4 linked regions of the Homo sapiens genome follow. Changing the gene in region 1 together with any one later gene gives a genetic interaction. Each region holds a gene or a part of one and is shown in the gene's direction. Other genes may lie near its edges.

Region 1 (5,588 bases):
ATGCCAAATGCATTGTGATGTTAGAGCCTAATGAATGTGTGTTAGATTTGGGAATACCGGAAAGAAGAATTAGGCTTTAGAATCATTGGGGAGAAAGAATTAAGAATTAGTTTTAGGGCTGGGTATGGTGGCTGACACCTGTAATCCCAGCACTTTGGGAGGCCGAGAAAGGTGGATCACTTGAGGTTAGGAGTTCAAGACCAACATGGCCAATATAGCAAGACCTTGTCTCCACTAAAAATACAAAAATTAGCCAGGTGTGGTGGCGCATGCCTGTAGTCCCAGCTACTCAGGAGCCTGAGGCACTAGAATCACTGGAACCCGGCAGGTGGAGGTTCCAGTGAGCCGAGATCACACCACTGTACTCTAGCATGGGCAATCGAGCAAGACTCTGCCAAAAAAAAAAAAAAAAAAGAATTAATTTTAGTTCATATCGATTTTGGATAAATGGACAGGCACATAGGAAATGATCATGTAGGACAGGAAATAAGTATCAGCAAAGGCCTGAAAATTGGAACTGATGAAAGGGCATCAGAGGGATAAAATGTTTGTCATTCTGTGTTAGAGATAGTTACCCATTCAGCTAACAAGTATATTTTAATTGCTCATTTGCCAAGCAGTGTGATAGGCTATATGAAAACAAATTGTAAGAGAGATAGAGGAGGAGGCTTACACATCAATGGAGGATAAATATGCCTTGCTTCCGAAAATACAATGTAGTGCAAGAATTGCTCGAATGGTAGCATGTATAGAAAACAGTAGGAGCGTGGATGAAGAGCCCATAAGCCTACCTTCGGTGTCAAGATGATTTCACAGATTAGGGTGAGCTCTGAAGGTGAGAAGTTTGTCAGATGGACAACCAGAGGGAATGGTAGTTGCAGGATGGTAGGTGCAGATATGAGAATTTCTCACTGGAGTGTAAACTTTGAAGCTAAAAGGAGGCAAATGGCAGAAGGTGAGGCTATACAGTGCTTGCTTAATATCAGTCAGGGACACTCAAACTCATCCACATTAAAAGCTGTATAGAAGAAAGGTAGAAAGAACATCAGTGTTGGGAGACAGCCTCTAGAAATGGAGTGCAGTGCTGAGTGCTTGGTCACATATTCCTTCCAGGCAATGCCCCTTCAGGTAGAGATGATGTAATATGTGTTCCCCTCCATGTTCCCCTCAGGGAGCACATCAAGGGTTCTCAGACTCAGCACTGTCGACATTTGGGGCTGGATAGTTCTTTGCTGTCGGGGGATTGTCCTATGCATTGTAGGATCTTCAGTAGCATCCTTGCCCTTGACCCACTAGATGCCAATAGCACTCTCATCAGTTGTAACAACCTAAAATGTCTCCAGACATTGCCAAGCGTCCCTTGGGGGATGAGAGTGAAATCCTTCTTGGTAGAGAACCATTGCCTTACCTCAGATTTAATGCCTAGTTCAAGTAGTTGTCCCTCAATAATTTCTCTTGGGTCTATGCCATTAGCTGGTTTCTGCCACCCCAGTAAAGACCTTCCTCACTGTAGTTTATTGCATGCTTTCCTAAAGTATTTTGTGTCTCTTTACTCTTGCACTGTAGGATGATTAACCATCAGAAAGCTTAGCTGTTCTATCACTCTGCCCATATGTGCAGTGGGCTCCCATTCTCTACCCTGTAATTCCAAACTTGTACAAGTAACCAAAGCTTTTTAGCACCTGGCCCCAACCTCTCTGTCTTAACCTCATTTCTCTGCTTTTTGTATTCTCTTCTATAGCCAAATTGGACCACCAATTTGGAGGCTCACTAAATGCTCCTGGCCTCCAGTTTGCTCATCCACTTGCTCTTTGTTTACATTGACTGTATGAGCAAAGCCAGCCATTCTCATTCCCAGCTTCCTTGTGCAATTGATTTTTCCAGCTCAAATGGCACATTTTCAGTGAAGGCATGCTTCCTCAGCTCTTCTCCCTTTTTTACTCCAAATCATCTAATAATAACACTTGTTCGTGTCTTATTTTCCAGTCCTTTGTCTATAAATAAGAGGTGTATCTTTCTTCTTTATATTCCTCATATCTCCAAACACCTTGTCTTACACAAAATAAGTAGTATTTGAATGAGTGTAAGTTATCTTGAAGCAGAATTGTCAGAAACTGTGAAACTTTGTTGTCCCATGGTAAAAATACTTTTCTGAGAGGTGAATATTGATACTGTATAACCTTGAAGACTTACCTTCGTTTTTTTCTCTCTAGCCTGCGTATCAGAATCTGAGACAGCGTGTTGACAACTTTGTTGCAAATCACTTGGCAACTCACACATGGAGTCCGCATCTCAATAAGAACCAGCTAAGAAACAACATTAGACAACAAGTCCTCAAGTAAGTCTCAGAGATAGAGTTCTGGGCAGGTTTTAAATGTCCTAACCTACTTTGCCTGAAAGCGGAGGCATTACATACATATTTGTTCACCTAATGATGTTGACAATTTTACTGGATTTGGTGTGGCTATTTCGTGTGATGTAGCATAATTTTGGATTTGGGTCTAATCACTTCACATGTTCTTATACATTTTAACAGTCTGATTGTTCCTATAGACCTTTGGAAATATTTGAAGGAAGGAAATAACAGTATGACTTTCTAAAAAATCTAGATATAATATTAATAGATGATATATACAGTTGCCTTCACAACTATTTTCTTGACCCTAAGAGAGCAAGCAGGCTTTATTATTCTTATTTTACAAATAAAGACATTAAAGATTACTGAAATTAAAATATTCTCTCTTGATTTGAGGCCACGTCTTCTTTTAATACAGTGCCCCCGTCTTTTGCATTTTACTATGACTTTTAACTGCTGTTTATGAATGATATAGCTCCCCACCTCCCCTCAAAGTGTTTGGACTTGTCAGAGCCATTTTGAGTGAACATAAGGTAATGACAATTATAAGAACTCGAATATTTGGAGCATCCTTAGGAAACTAGATTTACGGTCTTCTACTTTTTTTTTTTTTTTTTTTAAAGAGTCTCATTCTGTTCCCCAGGCAGGAGTGCAGTGGCATAATCATAGCCTGCTGCAGCCTCAATCTCCTGGGCTCAAGCAGACCTCCCAACGTCATCCTCCTGAGCACCTGCCACCATGCCCAGCTTATCGTTGTATTTTTTTGTAGAGACAGGGTCTCATTATGTTGCCCAGACTGGTCTCCAAATCCTAGGCTCAAGGGATCTTCCCTCCTTGGCTTCTGAAAGTGCTGGGATTATAGGCATGGGCCACCTCACCTGGCCACTACTTGTTCTTGAATGTAAATATTTGCAAAGACAAGAAAGCCTTCTACCCTTGCTATACCCCTCAAAAAAAGGGTGACTAAGTTATTTAGAGATCATCCAGTCTCCCTGACTTGACAAGTATTTATGTTCAAGTACATCTTTGAGAATGAAGTGTAGCTTTTTTTTTTTTTAACAGTTAAACAAATCTGTTTTATACCTGCCACCTCTTAATTTCCTTTTGTCCCATAGGAACCTCTCGAAAGCCTATCTAGTCTGATAGTTTCAACCAACAGGAAGCCCCACAAATCAAAATTCACACCCTGACTAAAAGACAAACCTATTTAGCCACAGGTAATACTAGAAACCAGAAGCCTGGGGGCTCAGACAGTGTCTCCTTGTGCATAAGAGAAGAGGGAAATTCACAATAGCTTTGTTGTCTACATTTTAAAGGATGTCTGAGGAACCTGTAAAAGAGTCCAGGTGAGATCAAAAGATGCCATTAGAAGGCTGCATAATAATACCTGGTGGGAAAAGGTCAAAGCTGTTTCTAGAAAAAGTAGAAACAAAAAAGATCTGTTGGGTGACAGGCCCGCTGCCTGTAGTTTCCACAAAGGCTTTCAAAGAGAACAATGACCAAAATAGCTTAGGACTAGGGGATAAGGGAGTGGAGGTAGGGTAGAGCACCCCTTCACACACATTTATACAGAGCCCTACTGATTACTTTCATTCAGTGATTTGCATAGCCACCTCCCTGTTCACAAATGATTGCATTGCTTTAAAAGCATGTTTTTTTGGGAGTCTGGCATTTTTTTTCTTCATATATTGACACTCAGATTGAAGGCAAACTTCTTAGAATTGCATTTACTTTTATAGCGTATAAAATCTATAAGGTAAGGGAGCAGTCATTCTTTTATTTAAGGGAACTAAGTCTTACACATGTGAAAATTAAGCACTTAAAATTATTGCTGTACCAGTAAGATATTGTGATCACAAAATCATGTTTGGTGCGAGGTCAGGGGTTCTTGTGGCTGTGTCAGTGATTAAATGCTGGAGCAATTTGCCTATGAGTAATGAGGAATCTCTTTTTCTGGAGACATTTTGAAAGAGGGAAGACAGCTGCCTTCTCTTGGATGATACTGATAATAACATTTTAAAGCTTCCTTAAAGAGATTATTTAGTTATGTTCAATCTGAAGGTATAGGGGTGGACTAGCCCCTGTAAATAAATATAATTTCAAACAGTTTTTTGTACGTATGCTTTGAGACATACTCACTTGACTCCATTAGGTTGAGCTATCTGCACTTGCCATTTTTGTAAGACAAAAATGGTCTAATACCAGTAATTTCAGATGGTTCAACTTAATAGCTGATCTGCTGACTCAGTAGGAGGGAAAATTTTATTCTACTTAAGCTTTTATTTGTACAACAGAATCTGAAAATCCTAGGTAACTGAATAACGAACTTAGCTAAACATAATTTGAAAGGAAGACAAGGAAGTAACTTTAACCAGAAAAACGCCAGCTGTTGGCATTTTGGCTTTGCCGTTGACCTAGGGCTGTAGCTTCTCCCCACTTGGGTGAGGCAGTTATGGCCGCTAAGTGCAGTATGATCATTGGTACTGGACTCCATTTTTCTGTAAGATTAGAGCTGACCTCTGTGTGAGAAAGGACTAAAGCAGAAGTGTTTTGTTTGTTTGCAAAACAAGAGGCTGGAACATAGGCAAACAGAGAAAGAGACTGAAGCAAAAATTTGGGAGTGGATAGTTTAATTTTTTTTTGGTACTTTTTTTTCTATTTTCTATTTTTTTTTTTTTTTTTGAGACGGAGTTCGCTCTGTCGCCAGGGTGGAGTGCAGTGGTGCCATCTCAGCTCACTGCAATCTCTGCCTCCTGGATTCCAGCAATTCTCCTGCCTCAGCCTCCCAAGTAGCTGGGATTACAGGCACGTGCCACCACACCCAGCTAATTTTTGTATTTTTAGGAGAGATGAGGTTTCACCATGTTGGCCAGGATGGTCTCGATCTCCTGACCTTGTGATCTGCCCGCCTTGGCCTCCCAGAGTGCTGGGATTACAGGCGTGAGCCACCATGCCCGGTCCTTTTTGTACCTTTTTACTTGTACCCTAAAACCTTTTTTAAGATTGCTTTTTCTTATTTCTTTTCTACCTACTACATTTTAAATACACCTCTAAGATGTAACAGTGTTTGCAAGATTTGCATTTTTTTTTAATCTTTAAAAAGCAGGTAACCTACTTTGTGCTGAGTTGGCTCATTTTTCTCTATGGCCCACATAAGTAGAATTATAGTTTCACAAGGCGACAAGGTGCTTCCAGAAATGAAAAACTAATCCATCCTGCACTCCAGATGGAA
Region 2 (4,885 bases), on another chromosome or scaffold:
GTTTTTATGTGGAAACTTTTTCTTTTATTCGACTTTGTTACTAATTTTTGCTCTGTTTAAAACAACTTTCTGGAAAAAAATTCATGTAAAAGAATGGAAAGTTAGTTTGCCTAGTGGTTGGTATGGTGTTATTCATAAAATCACATTGTGGTGTGTTCTTGGATGCAGAGAATCTTAACAATCTCCCTTAGGCACAAGTTTATCATAGTTGGCAACAGTTTTTATTTCTGAAGAGAGATGTTGTTAGAAATCCCAGGCTCTAAATAAGGGTCAAAGGGAAAAGTTGAGCATTCAGGATTCTGTTCAGAATTCACATCTGGTAGGTGTGGATAGTTTTTCACTAAAAAAGGTTTCCAACAAATGACATGCCAAACTCTTGACACAGTAAAACTTTTGCCTGAAGTCAGTTAATCACTCTGCCAGTTCCAATGCATGATTTTTCCAGTGATAACTTCAAGTTACTTTCTGCTTTCTCTGAGGAGAAATATCCCTGATACTTATATCCTGTAGGCAGAGAAGGCTTTTCTTGGAGGTCGAATGGCAATTGGGTGGTAAATGAATTTGGAACTACTGAAATTTTTATACCGTCAACATTCATGCAAAAAAAAAAACTATTGAGGGCCTTTTTTTCTGCCATACATTTGAATTGACTTCAAACTTCTTAATTTCTTTTAGTCACTTAAAGGTTTTTCACATTTTCGTGGCCCAAGCATAAAGATCACCTATCTGCAGGATTCAAGACACCCAATCATTTGAGTAGTTCTGATAGGACTGCTTTACAGATACGTTAGCAGAGGCCTTTCAAAAAGGGAGTGTTTTTGTATGTTAGAAGATACTATAAAGCCAACAAGCAAATATTTGCAACTTATATGAAAAAGAACAAATGAGAAAAAAACATACACAAAATATAGACAAGGACATGCAAATGTCCAACAAATGGGAGGAAAAAAATCCAGCCTCACTAGTCATCAGGGAATGAAAAGTAAGGCAATGAGATAGCCATTTTGTACTCATCATATTGGCCAGAATGTAAGAGATTGTTGCCATCAAATATTGGCAAGGATTTTGGAAATGGGCATTCTCAAATATTGCTGATGGAAGTTTGAGTGGCTACACCTTTTTTGCAACCTATTTGATGAAAATAAAAAGCATTCATATACAAGGATATACTTAAAGGGCTGCTTCATTTATTATAGCAAAATGTAAAAGCAGCCTGTGTCTGATATTATGCAAGAGAATAGTTACATAGAAACAATGGTACAGGTTGGGCGTTGTGGCTCATGCCTGTAATCCCAGCACTTTGGGAGGCTGAGACAGGCAGATTGCTTGAGCCCAGGAGTTTGAGGCTTATTTGAGCAACATAGGGATACTTTCTCTCTACAAGAAATACAAAAATTAGCCAGGTGTGGTGGTGCCTTTGTACCTGGAGGCTGAGGTGGGAGAATCACTTGAGGTTGAGGCTATAGTGAGTTGTGATCATACCACTATACTCCTGCCTGGGCTATAAGAGTGAGACCCTGCCAAAAAAAGAAAGAGAAGGAGAGAGAGAACCCATATTTCCATATCTTGTATCTAAAAAGAATGGCTAACATTTACATATATTAATCTCAAAGGATAAAAAGAAAAAAATAAAGTAGTATGTAAGATATATTTCTGTAACATTAGCTATCTCAGGGAGGGTAAGAGAATATTATAAGCTTTTACTTTATATGTATTTGTATTGTTTTAGTTATTTAAAAATTTTTGAATAAAGTAGAAACAATAGTTCAGAAGTCAGTCCATGTCTTTCTCTAACTCATTCAAGATAGATGAATTATTAGCTTGTACCTCAAAATCTCCCAGCATGGAAGTTCTCTAGCCTACTGTGGCCATTTTTTCTAGCATGGAACAACATGCTATGTTGAGGGATTTCTTCATTAAATCTAATTTAAATTGTCCCTGCAGTCAAAATTTTTTCCATATAGATAATATGGAAAACAGCTGGTTTCATCTTTATATCAAATTTTTTCATAAATATTAAGGTGTAAATTAATGGTCAACTGACGGTGGAGAAATAAAGCAGGGTTTGGTATTGGAATTGGTCAAGTTCAATAATGGATTGTTTCCTTCAGGCCCGACAGGAGATGAACTGCCTTTGCTGCTTTTCTGCCCAGTTTTATACTCACTCTTCTCGTAAAAGTGTTGCATCAGGAACCTTTTAAGAAGTGCTTAAATTCAGATTCACTTGTCCCTAGTAATTCATTCATAAAGCACAGGGGTTCATTTAAACGTATGTTGTAATCCATTCGGAAAATCTAAAATGTTGTTTTTGCTGAATATTTTTCCCCGTGGTGGACCTAAGGGTTTGCTTTTTTCCCCCCATTATATGAGAAAATTGAAAGGATATGCTTAGGAATTACCCTTGTTCTTAAAAAATGGGGGGTGGGTATGCTTTGGGGTTTTTTTGTCTGTTTTCTCAGCTTTCAAATAATGAGGAGTATGGGCAAATAGCATTACTGCCCATTGAGCTGAACACAGGATTATTTTTATTTCCATATTTTTTCCTTCATCAGGGCTTTTGTTTGGGGTAGAGTATTAATAACAAGTAAGATGTGACATGGAGCTGTCTTCAGTTAGATTCACGTGAGTCTTATCCAGCCTTTCACAAACTGAGGAGAAAGAATTAACGTGTATAGCAGGAAATTGGGGGTGGGAGGAGGAAGGGGAGTGACTGCTAATAAGGTAGGGGATTTTTGGAGGGAGGGTAATGTAAATGTGCTATAATTGACTGTGACGATAGTTGGCCAACTCTGATACACTATGAACTGTGGAATTGTAACACTTCAAATGGATAAATTGTATGCTTTGTGAATTATTTATCAATATAAAAAAATGAAAAGGCCCGGTGCACCTGTATTATCTGTGCTTGTGCTTATGGAAATATTTTAAATTATTGGCTCAAAGATAAATGCTAGCAAGTCTGGTAAGTATAACTCTCTGGGCTATGTCAGGGACCTGGCTCAAGTCTCCCCTGCAAAGATCTTCTCCCCCTGTGTTCATAATCTTAAACAAGTATTAATTACACAAAAAAAGTTGTACTCATGAAGCCTATGTGCTACAGTCTTCTGAGAAACCATGCTCTAAGAAAGGATGGTGGTTCAGATTAAAAGGAGAGGAAGATTATGAACTGAAAAATACAGCTTCATTTTTAGTGTAAAAATGGAATATTCTAATATTTGCAAGACTGCTGCTTAACAATGTCAGCGTTGATTTACTCCACTGCAGAGCTTTAGGCTTTTTGACATTTTTATTTATGACTCAATCGTATTTCAATCTGGGTATTAGCGGGAAGCTGATACCAGGAAAAACCTTTAAAACCCAAATCGTAATTTTCTCCTAGTCTTTTTGGCAAGTGTGCCGTGGGTAGACAGTAGGTTGGAGATGGCCATTGCTACTGCCAGCTTAAAATAGGAAATGGTCGCCATTTGATAAAGAGTGACAGGTTGGAAAATTAGGACCTGTTTTCTAAATTTTTATTTGTATTTTAGTAATGTCATTTCTTGGTTTTGAGGCTTTACATAGTACCAGGGCAAGATTCACTTATTCAATTGTAAGAATACAAATCTCAGAGCTACATGATAATGATTTTGAGATAATCTTACACCTCTAGTATTCCAATAGCAAAAATTGAGATAATATTACTTTTCTTTTCTCTAGCTGGTGTCATAGATGAAGATTATAGAGGAAATGTTGGTGTTGTACTGTTTAATTTTGGCAAAGAAAAGTTTGAAGGTATGTTAAATATATACATTCACATAATTTTAGTGAATTTTCAGAGTCATGTATGTGTAAATTAATATTGACTCCTTTAATTCTCATTGAATAAGACAGGATATGGCGAATGTGTCAGTAACGTCAGTAATAAACTATTCTTTCTTTGAAGTCAAAAAAGGTGATCGAATTGCACAGCTCATTTGCGAACGGATTTTTTATCCAGAAATAGAAGAAGTTCAAGTAAGTATTACAAAGGAAGATACAGAATAAGTAATATAACATCTTAAGTGAAGAAATATATATAATCTTGAGAATTTAATATGCTGTTTGTAACTAAATAGTATATATGACTAAACTTATTTTAAGCAAATTTAAAATACTAGTTTTAGAATTTCTTTAAATGTTTTTCATGTAGCTATTATGTAGTATTACTTTGGATAATAAGTTATTTAAACATACTGTGAACTTCTAATATTTTATTAGAATTTTTTAAAGTTATCCAGTATTCTAATTTATGGAGCTTTTTAGAATTTAATTTTCTTTCTGTAATCTCCCTTTTGAAAAGATGATATAGCAAGAGTAGAATTCTGGCTGTATTTTTCTTAGGAGCTGGAGAGGAAAACTGAAAGAGGCTCTTAAAAAAAACTGTGAAGCTTACTACCTTTCTATCTTTCAGGCCTTGGATGACACCGAAAGGGGTTCAGGAGGTTTTGGTTCCACTGGAAAGAATTAAAATTTATGCCAAGAACAGAAAACAAGAAGTCATACCTTTTTCTTAAAAAAAAAAAAAAAGTTTTTGCTTCAAGTGTTTTGGTGTTTTGCACTTCTGTAAACTTACTAGCTTTACCTTCTAAAAGTACTGCATTTTTTACTTTTTTTTATGATCAAGGAAAAGATCATTAAAAAAAAACACAAAGAAGTTTTTCTTTGTGTTTGGATCAAAAAGAAACTTTGTTTTTCCGCAATTGAAGGTTGTATGTAAATCTGCTTTGTGGTGACCTGATGTAAACAGTGTCTTCTTAAAATCAAATGTAAATCAATTACAGATTAAAAAAAAAAGCCTGTATTTAACTCATATGATCTCCCTTCAGCAACTTATTTTGCTTTAATTGCTTTAAATCTTAAGCAATAT
Region 3 (4,885 bases), on another chromosome or scaffold:
TAATCCCAGCACTTTGGGAGGCTGAGGCAGGTGGATCACCCGAGGTCAGGAGTTCAAGACCAGCCTGGCCAACATGGTAAAACCCCATCTCTACTAAAAATACAAAAAATTAGCTGGGCATGGTGGCAGGTCCCTGTAATCCCAACTACTCAGGAGGCTGAGGCAGGAGAATCACTTGAACCCAGGAGGTGGAGATTGCAGTTAGGCAAGATTGCGCCACTGCACTCCAGCCTGGGCCACAAGAGTGAAACTCCATCTCAAAGCCAAAAAAAAAAAAAAAAAGGAACAAGACAGACAGCTTCTGTCTTTGCATAACTTACAGACTGGTAGGAAGCCAGATATTGAACAATGCAAAAGAGGTTGTTTGGTCCTGTGGCTGCATAGAATGAGCTTAACATACTCTTGCCAGCTGGTGAAGGACCAACGAGAGCTTTTCATGAAAACCTGAAAAATTGATGTCTAAGTTAAAACAGGATGTGTACCTAAATGTGAGAAGCACACTTTTGAGCTGAGGAATCAAAAATAAATTTATACATGGATTTCCCCTCAACTTTTACATTGTAATAAGATGTATTAATCTTTATAGCATTATTCATGATACTTGTAACTGTGTTTTCTTGGTCTCTTTTCAGTTTGGATTTGAAATTAGTTTTCCTGAATTTTGTTTAAAGGGAGTCACACTTAAGAATTTTAGTACTTCTAATTTAAATACTGACTTCCTTGCCAAAAAGATCATACCATCAAAGGATAAGAATATTTTGCCAAAGGTAATCGTGTTTAATTTTTTTGTGTGATCATTCATGTGTATTTTTGTTCCTATAAAATATGTTTGAATCTTGACTTAATATTACTAATATATGTGCTTAAGTGTGCTCACTAGCATAATTTTTAATATAATTAAGTACTTAAGTTATACTATGTCATCAACATTAAATTTTGGTGAAAGTGTCATTGTTTTAGATGTTTAAAAAAATGTAATGCTACTAAATGTGTATAGTCCTGAAACCACCTTTGGTTTGGACTTTACTATGTGACCTTTCTAAGACTCAGTTTGGAGAGAATATGACATAGAGAAAAGAGGATATGTTTTGATGTTAGGTAAACCTGGGTTTGGAACCTAACTGTGTCACCTATAAGTTGTTTATAACCTTGGGTAGATTGATTAACTCATTTGTGAAGTGGAGGCAATAGTAACACACTTATCTTACAAAGTTATGAGGATTAAATGAGGTGAGAGTTTAATATGTGACATAGTACCTGACATATGCTTAACTTATAGTGTAAGAAGTATCAGTTCTTGCCCTGTATCTCCTATACATTTATTCTTAAAATGCAAGTAATTATAAAATATAATAACTAGGAAAAGGCTTAGTTGGCTTTTTAACATTGGAAAAATAACCTAAGAAGAGATATTTATATGAAGGTACCTTAGAATTCACTTTAAAAGAACTAATTTAAGAACATGGAAAACAGTGGGCATGAAGTTAAAGGATGTCAAATTGATGGTTAATATTTTCTAATCAAAGGGTGGTACAAAAAGAGGGTATCATTTGATTTGAACTCATTTCTCAATATTTGTTTAGAATTGCTTACTTTAAGTAACTTACTATGGCCATCTTTCACAGGAATATTAAATTCTTTTCTAAAAATTAGAATCGTAAGATTCATGACCTCAACTTTTCTTCAAGTATGAATAATGTGTCCAAATTTTTGCTACTGTTGAAGAGAATCTTAGGGTACAACTTCTTCAATAATGTAAAATTCATATTCTCTCTCTGTATATGTATAGACACACACACTGTATAAACACATATGTTTATGATTATAGATATATATACACTTAATCATGTATGGTGAAATTACTCTGCTTTTTACAAGTCTAAAACTTTGTGTAACCTCTTCAAGAAGTGTGCTCTTTTCTTTGCCTTTCATGTGAAGCACCGTGGCTCCAACTACTGAAATAGCCTCCCTTCAGTAACAAACTCTAATTTGGTTTTAGGCTTTACCCAAGAAATACAGTACCGAAATTTTATTTTTTCTGAATGGAGCTTTCTATGTTAATTAGCACATGCTGGCTTCACTATCTCTCTCTGTAATTTATTTAGTCTTTTCACTAGAATTTTTTTTTTCTAAATGTCAGTGTACCACTCAGCCTAAGTTCATCCTGGAGTGTCTTTTCTTTCACTTTTTTAGTCTGCAGATTCCACCTGCAGAGGTAGGTTGCTAATTTGTTTCTTCAACACTATAGCCTATTGTATCACCTGTCTGTCTCGTTGAAGATAAACAGCAAAAGTTGAGAACGCTTGTCCTCTGTTGCTTACCTCTTCCCATACTTATTTTCTCCTGTGAAAGCTCTTCCTGGTTACTAAGTGATCTCCATGTCTGTTTCTGTACCCTGAAAGGTAGAATTGAAATTGAAGAAATTCTGGTCTGCTATAGAGGATTAAATGCTAGGCATGCTTAATGTGTAAAAAGTTGCTTTTTAAGATCCATTTTAAAGTTTTAAACCCTTAATCACTAATTTGTTTACTTTTGTTTATGGTATTTAAATATTACACAATTTTAATTTCTTTTCTAGGTTTTCCATTATTATGGCCCTGCTTTAGAATTTGTGCAGATGATAAAATTATCAGATCTACCCTCCTGCTATATGTCGGATATTGAATTTGAGTTGTATCCTTTCATTTACATGTTCATTTTAGATTACATTTTCTGTGTCAGGTAGAATGTTCTGGTATTGTCAGGTAAATATACATGTTAGGTATATCTTTTTCATTATATTCACTGTTTTAATGTTGATGTTCAAGTAGGCTGCTGGACTCCTTATTTTTGGAGTTGCTGGGGAAGGAAGTTCTTGCTTTTCCCACCACCTGGATCCTATACCTATTTTATCAGAAATCTTCCTCCCTATGCAAGCATCTTTATTTTTGTTCAGTATTGTTGAGACTTTTCTATGGATAGGGCTATGGAAATAATACAGAAGTGATTGAGCCTTGCTTCTTTAATGCAATTATAATGTTCTCTGCTTGAGCACAGGACTGATCTACTCTCACACCTAGCCTAGCATTAACTGCAACTTTGTCCTTCCCACCCACTGCCCAGACACCACCACGTATATATTTTATGTGCTTTTGTTAACTTTACTATTATTTTTTATAGTTTTAATGCTTTTTGGAAATAATTTCCCTTTTCCTGAAATCCAGGAATACATCTCCATGACTTCTGTGTTTTACTCAATATGTTTCTGCTGAAGAAGTCTGTAACTGCAATATATCATAGCATAGAGTAAGCACTCAATATTGTCAGATGAATGACTTTGGATTATGTCAGCCTAAATCAAAATACTCATTATTTTCTTATTGAAAGTTCTTTGCTGCAGAAAAGATAACATATACAAAGGTGTAGGAGAACGTTACCCAGCTGAGAACTGTTTGTAGTCTAGAATCATTAAAGAGTAGTGGTTTTTTGGCTTGGGGGTGTTGAGGGCAGTTGCTAAGTGATCAGATTGGAGAGCCTTTTCAGATTAATCAGGTCCTAAAAGACCTTACGTATCATGATTGGGGTTAAATTCTATCCTAAAGATAATGAGGAATCATACAAGGATTATAAGCCAGACATAGCTTAATGAAAAGTAAATTTTAGATCATGCTGGTAGGATTTTGGAAACCTGAGCAAAGCTCGAACTAAACAAGTGGCATTTGGAATGGAGAGCCAGGAAAAGTACACGATGTGTTAAAGATGTAAAATCAACACGGTATTATGATTTATTTATTACATGCGGAGAAAGTGAGAAGGCCAGAGAGTGTAGTTGATTCCCTATGTTGAAACTGGTGTCACTAGTTGAGATAACATGAGGTGAGCCATTTTCGCAGAGGAAAAGGAATTCAGGTTCGGGTAGTTGGAGTGGTAATGTACATTGTAGTAAAAAGCATAATAGGTAGTTTAAAAAATTTTTTATCCATTATACATTACTGTTGAGAACCATTTAGCCAGCATGCTACCTGGCAGTATAACTAGACGTTACTTTCAGATATAATCTATTATTAATACTTCTTTTCTCTGTCCTCATCTGTTAGCAGCTTGTAGGTCAGAAGCTATTTGATGTTTTTATCTTATATTAGATTCTTGTCTTAGACCAATGGTTTTCAAACTATCTTCCAAGGAAAGTCGAGGACTGAGTTCTTCAGATAATGGGATTGAAAGATAAGTTGAGTGGGCATGGCTCTTGGCCCCCTCCTACTGCAACCAGAGCAGCACCTGTTCTACCCTAAATATTGGGTTTCCATATAAAATGTCACTTGCAAAAAGTTGCTGCATTAAAAAGGTTTGCAAAGTGCACTGTAAACTGTTTTCATGGTACCACCCAACACTTAGATGTTTGGCCGTGTTTTTACATAATATTCAGTATACTTTTTGCTACCATTATGTTAAGAAAAGTTCTACAACTTGAAAAAAAAAATCTTCCCTCAAATACTGTATTTATGCTTTTAGAATAGGCAGAGGACTTCCTGGTATATGGTGTAGAGAGGAGGGAGAAATGTTAGGAATCTGTGGAAAATAAAACAAGTAATTTATAAACTTAAAAAATGTTTAAATGTTTCTCCTGCCATCAGCATGAAGAAACCTAAGAATCAGTCAGCTGATGTATCATTTTATGTATTTAAGTAAATATAAATGGTATCACATGTATCTGCAAATATATTCAACATATTTTAAACTCTCTTTTAAAAATATATAAGCATGTTTAGAAATACACCTAAGAACAGAACATTTTATATAAAAAGAAATTGTTATTGGCTGGAAATGAAACACTAGCATAGTGTTTTTGAATTTTTATTTAGGAGCTACAGTTTTTATAAATTTCTTGTTCTTATAGTTTATAGTA
Region 4 (4,885 bases), on another chromosome or scaffold:
GCGCCACCATGCCCGGCTAATTTTTGTATTTTTAGTAGAGACGGGGTTTCACCGTGTTAGCCAGGATGGTCTAATTTTATGTAATTATATGGCACATGCAAAGAAGAAATCAAAGTGACATAGTGCATAGAGTTGAATGATGGTCAGGTTGGTTAGGAAAAGAATCAGTGATATAACTATGAGCAACTCAGATGACAAACATCCACAGAAAATCAGCCCTTACTATTTGCCTGATCCTGAGAATTGATGGTGTTTGGCACCAGGCAGATGGTGAAGGTATTACAGAAACACTTTGCACATTAGTAAGTTTACTTTATTTCTCACATAGGATATTACTGGTCCACTTCCCTCCTTTTTTTTTTTTTTTTTAAACAGGAATCTCTATCTTAGACCATTTTGATTTCTAAAATAGCAATATTTCTTATGTGACTATTTCATTATTGTGCTGCTGCCACCTGGTGGCCACAGTAGTGATGTCATACTTCAGTTTAATTTCTTTTTTTATTGCAAAGACACTATTAAGCCAAAAGATAGGCTGATATATTTTAAGATATAGAATACTGTAAAATATATAAAGGTTGCACATCGATTGTGACTCAATTGATTGCCACAATGTCTAGGTTGAATCCAGGACTATAATTTTTAGTTTATCATAGTCAAGTTATTTAACTCTCTAAGCCTGTTTTCTCAAAGTAATAGTATCTGTCTTTTATGAGTATAGTGAAGATTGATTTAGACAATGTGTACAAGGCAGCTGTTGAACATTCAGTAACTTAACTTCTAAGTATATTATTAAATAGTCATAGAAAATATATTAATGTATATTACTAAATATATTAATGTTTAAGAATAACATGACCTAAATAAGTATAATTTTACTAATGATAATTTTGAATAACTGTGATAGCACTGTCAATAAGAATAGCACTTTCCTACATGTTAGTTAAGTATCCGTGTATGGTTGTCAGGAGCATGCTACTTACAGTGGACATTTAATTGGCTGTTAGAACCCATGAAAAAGCTGGAAGAAACCTTAGAGAATATTGTTCATGCCCCTCATTTTGCAGATGTTAAAACAAGTCCGAGAATATAAAGCTAGTTAGTTGCAGAGTAGGACTGTATCCTGGGTCTCCATCTAGTGTGGTGTGGACCGTGTACTGCCTCCCAGTTCTCCTAGAGTGGACCAAAACATGGAATCTTGGTTGCATTGTAGTTGGACTGTATTGTGATTTGAAAGTGGAGTAAAACATGGGAACCTTTTTCTTTAGGTTTTTATTTTTGCAATTTTGGTGTAATATGTAGGATAAACCAACTAGAAAAAAAATCCTCCCTGTCACGTTTGTGCACAAATAATTTAATACTCAGTTTGTTAGTATCTTTAAAAATAGATGCAAATAAGGTGCAGTGGTTCTATTTTCCAGTCTTCTCATTCTCCTCTGTGTCTCTGGAACACCCTGGGCATGTCTCTCACTATATTTATCACACTGGGAAAGCCTTTTTGGCTCATTTTTTTCTGTCCCATACTAGACTATTAATACCTTGAAAGGGGCCATATCTTTCATCACTATATATCTAGTTGTTAGTACAACATTGAATTACGTGTTGAGTAAAATAATCTACTTCTTACAGCAGTATAATTTTTAGATGAGGATTAGCCCAGGGGCAGAACCTCTACACCACAGTCTGGTTATTGTCTTAAGGGTTTAAGGAAAAAGCATTTTGGAATGAAAAGTGGTTTGACATTGAACATTTTGAAGATTTATTATAAAAGGCGAGAAGCATACACATATTAATCAACACTACTGAGTTTAAGGGTCCTCTTTCCTTTCTCACTGTCACCTTTCTTCATGGTGTATCTTACCCTTTATTTTATATTTATTTATTTATTTATTTATTTATTTATTTATTTATTTGAGATGGAATCTCTGTCTGCCACCCAGGCTGTAGTGCAATGGTGTGATCTCGGATCACTGCAACCTCCGCCTCCCGACTTCAAGCGATTTTCCTACCTCAGCCTCCCCATGGCTGGAACTACAGGTGCATGCCACCATGCCCAGCTAATTTTTTTTTTTTTTGGTAGAGGCGGAGTTTTACCATGTTGGCCAGGCTGGTCTCAAACTCCTGACCTCAGGTGATCCGCCTCCCTCGGCCTCCCAAGTTCTAGGATTACAGGCGTGAGCCACCGCACCCAACTGTATCTTGCTGTTTATATGGCAGTCTTCTATCTCCCGTTCCCTCTTTCTCTGCTAGACCCTTCATGTAGTTCCCCAGCTGTGACCAGTTTGCATGGGGGAGAGGGTAGGTAAAAGAGGGAGGGGAGTTAAGTTCAGCCAAAATAATCTGCCACGTGCCATGTTGAAATGCTGCGTTGAGCTCTGCAGCTGCAGAGATGAATAAAATTGGGTTTCTGCCCTGGAGGGATGAATAGTCTAGTAAGGAAAAATAGTATGTAAAAAACTCACTTCCAGTGTGGTGCAACTCCTATGAAAGAACGTATTAAGCACTGGGAGCAAATGAAGTGCAGAGGTGGGAGGGCCCTGTGGCTGCCTTTCGGTGGAGAGAGGATGTTGCATGCAGGAAGCTCTATGAGCCTGTCTTCAGGAGTGAGTAGGCTTTCCCATGATAGACCAAAGAGTTTAATCTCAGTACACTTCGCATTTTTTATACTATCTCTTTAATTTTTAAAAAGCTATACTTTCCCTCTGACATGTGTGAACCCATTTCTTTCTCATTTTGTTAAGGGAGTTTGTGTATCCGTCTGCTAGAGAGATCCCACCTCCACCCCTGCTCACCCGACATTAGGAATTAGGCAAAGAACAATGAGATATTTGATATTTACACGGAGAGAGTGTCAACCGCAATTCAGATATTTTTAAGTTATTCTGTTTTAGTCCGAAATAGTTTGTTCCTAGTATTCCTGAAGTGATGTTCTTTGACTGCTTCTACAGTCATCTTAAGAAGTGCTGCATTTTTTCATTATTATGTATGCTTTCATTCACATTCTTAAGTTGTAAGTTAGAATGTTAGAACTGAAGAAATGAATTGTCTCATGACTGATATTTTTTTCTTTGTCAGTTGCCAAAACAAAGGGGATTTGGTGATGGAGGCTTTGTTAGAAGGAATACAAAATCGAGGGCATGGTGGGTAAGTTTGCTTTTTTTAAAATTAATTTTTTTGGTTAATACATGATTACATATTTATAGGGTTCACATGATACTTTGATACATACATATAATGTGTAATGATCAAATAAGGGTATTTAGTATACCTATCAGCTCAAGCATTTATCATTTTTTGTGTTGGGAACATTTCAATTCTTCTAGCTACTTTGAAATATATAGTAAATTTTTAAAGTTTAAGGAACCTTACTGTGCTAGTCACCCGACTGTGCTAATTACTTAACTAGTTACATACTAGTTACTTAGTAGTCACCTTACTGTGCTATTTAACACTAGAGCTTACTCTTCTACCTAACTGTATGGTTTGTACCCATTAACCAAACATTCTTCACCCCCAACCCCTTCCCAGCCTCTGGTAACCATCGTTCTACTCTCTACCTCCATGAGGTGAACTTTTTTAGACCCCACATATGAATGAGAACATGAGATATTTGTCTTTCTGTGCCTATTATTTCACTTAACGACCACCAGTTTTATCCATGTTGCTGCAAATAACAGGGCTTCATTCTTTTTTATGGCTGAATAGTATTCCATGATGGATATATTTCTGACATTTTCTTTATCCATTAATCTGCTGTTGGACACTCAAGTCAATTCCATATCTTGGTTATTGTGAATAATGCTGCAATAAACATGGGGGTACAAGTATCCCTTTCACATACTGATTTCCTTTCCTTTGGATAGATTACCCAATAGTGTGCTTTCTGAATCATATGTGTTGTGAGTGGTGCAAAGTCAGACATAACCAGGTCCATACATGTTTGTGTCTTTTCTACAAGAGCAAACTTTTATTGATGCTATTTCAGTCATAAAAGCCACAAGCTACATGGAGTTCCCAAGGAGGCATTTCCCCCTAGTACTACCAGTTCACTCAATAGTCAGAGCCATGGGCATACAGGCTCAAGCCTCTCCACAAGTCAGTCAGTATTGCAAACCATACATAATAGTGTATTAATATATGTAAATGTTGCAGTGTAAACATTCCACATCAAACAAAGTAACATTTAACAGGAGAAAAGGATAGAAAAAAAAGGGGGGGGGGGCTAAAGAACTAGTCCAAAGAGAACAACTGGACAAAGAGAATATTCTGGCCTGATCTGGACGGTTGTCAACATTCTTGCAAGGAGGAGCCTTTGGTGACAGATGCCAGGTGCTGATCACAAGTGACAGCCAGACAGGCTGTTATCAAGACAGCTGTTTTGAGCTGGTAAAGTCTTGCTCTTTTTGTGGCCACAGAATCTTCTGGTGATAACTGATAGTGAAATATTGTGCCTGTTTATGTCATTATCTGATTGAGTGCAGTCTTTATTGATAAGGTGAACATCGGGTCCCTGTGGGCATGATGTCTTTTGAAATGTGAGATGCAATCTCTTTCTAAAATGGAGTTACTTATGTTAAGGGTGCTATATACAATATGGTAGTTCTATTTTTAGTTTTTTAGAAAACTCCATTTAGTTTTCCATAATGGCTGTACTAATTTTACATTCTCACCAACAGCATATGAGAGTTCCCTTTTGTCCACATCCCCCCCAGCATTTGTTATATTTTGTCTTTTTGATAATCATTCTAACTGGGGTGAGATGAATCATTGTGGTTTTCACTTGCATTTTCCTGGTGATTTAGTGGTGTCGACCATTTTTTCATACACCTTTTGGCCATTTGTATGTCTTCTTTAGAGAAATGTCTATTCAAATCCTTTGCCCACA

Evidence for each region. A genetic interaction does not mean that the proteins touch.
Region 2: changes in BOD1L1 (region 1) and DUT together harm fitness more than expected from each alone (negative genetic interaction), as found in Homo sapiens cells (one large-scale study listed by BioGRID).
Region 3: changes in BOD1L1 (region 1) and MTBP together harm fitness less than expected from each alone (positive genetic interaction), as found in Homo sapiens cells (one large-scale study listed by BioGRID).
Region 4: changes in BOD1L1 (region 1) and CEP63 together harm fitness more than expected from each alone (negative genetic interaction), as found in Homo sapiens cells (one large-scale study listed by BioGRID).

What each region holds. Positions count from the first base shown.
Region 1 is NC_000004.12:13,616,693-13,622,280, reverse strand, and holds part of BOD1L1 (biorientation of chromosomes in cell division protein 1-like 1), read left to right. Parts: intron 1-2,213; coding exon 2,214-2,338; intron 2,339-5,588. UniProt on the Homo sapiens protein: Component of the fork protection machinery required to protect stalled/damaged replication forks from uncontrolled DNA2-dependent resection.
Region 2 is NC_000015.10:48,337,593-48,342,477, forward strand, and holds part of DUT (deoxyuridine 5'-triphosphate nucleotidohydrolase, mitochondrial isoform 1 precursor), read left to right. Parts: intron 1-3,696; coding exon 3,697-3,771; intron 3,772-3,922; coding exon 3,923-3,993; intron 3,994-4,429; coding exon 4,430-4,486; 3' UTR 4,487-4,885. UniProt on the Homo sapiens protein: Catalyzes the cleavage of 2'-deoxyuridine 5'-triphosphate (dUTP) into 2'-deoxyuridine 5'-monophosphate (dUMP) and inorganic pyrophosphate and through its action efficiently prevents uracil misincorporation into DNA and at the same time provides dUMP, the substrate for de novo thymidylate biosynthesis.
Region 3 is NC_000008.11:120,458,583-120,463,467, forward strand, and holds part of MTBP (mdm2-binding protein), read left to right. Parts: intron 1-632; coding exon 633-767; intron 768-2,578; coding exon 2,579-2,673; intron 2,674-4,885. UniProt on the Homo sapiens protein: Inhibits cell migration in vitro and suppresses the invasive behavior of tumor cells. May play a role in MDM2-dependent p53/TP53 homeostasis in unstressed cells. Inhibits autoubiquitination of MDM2, thereby enhancing MDM2 stability.
Region 4 is NC_000003.12:134,492,221-134,497,105, forward strand, and holds part of CEP63 (centrosomal protein of 63 kDa), read left to right. Parts: intron 1-3,075; coding exon of another isoform or gene 3,076-3,100; coding exon 3,101-3,144; intron 3,145-4,885. UniProt on the Homo sapiens protein: Required for normal spindle assembly.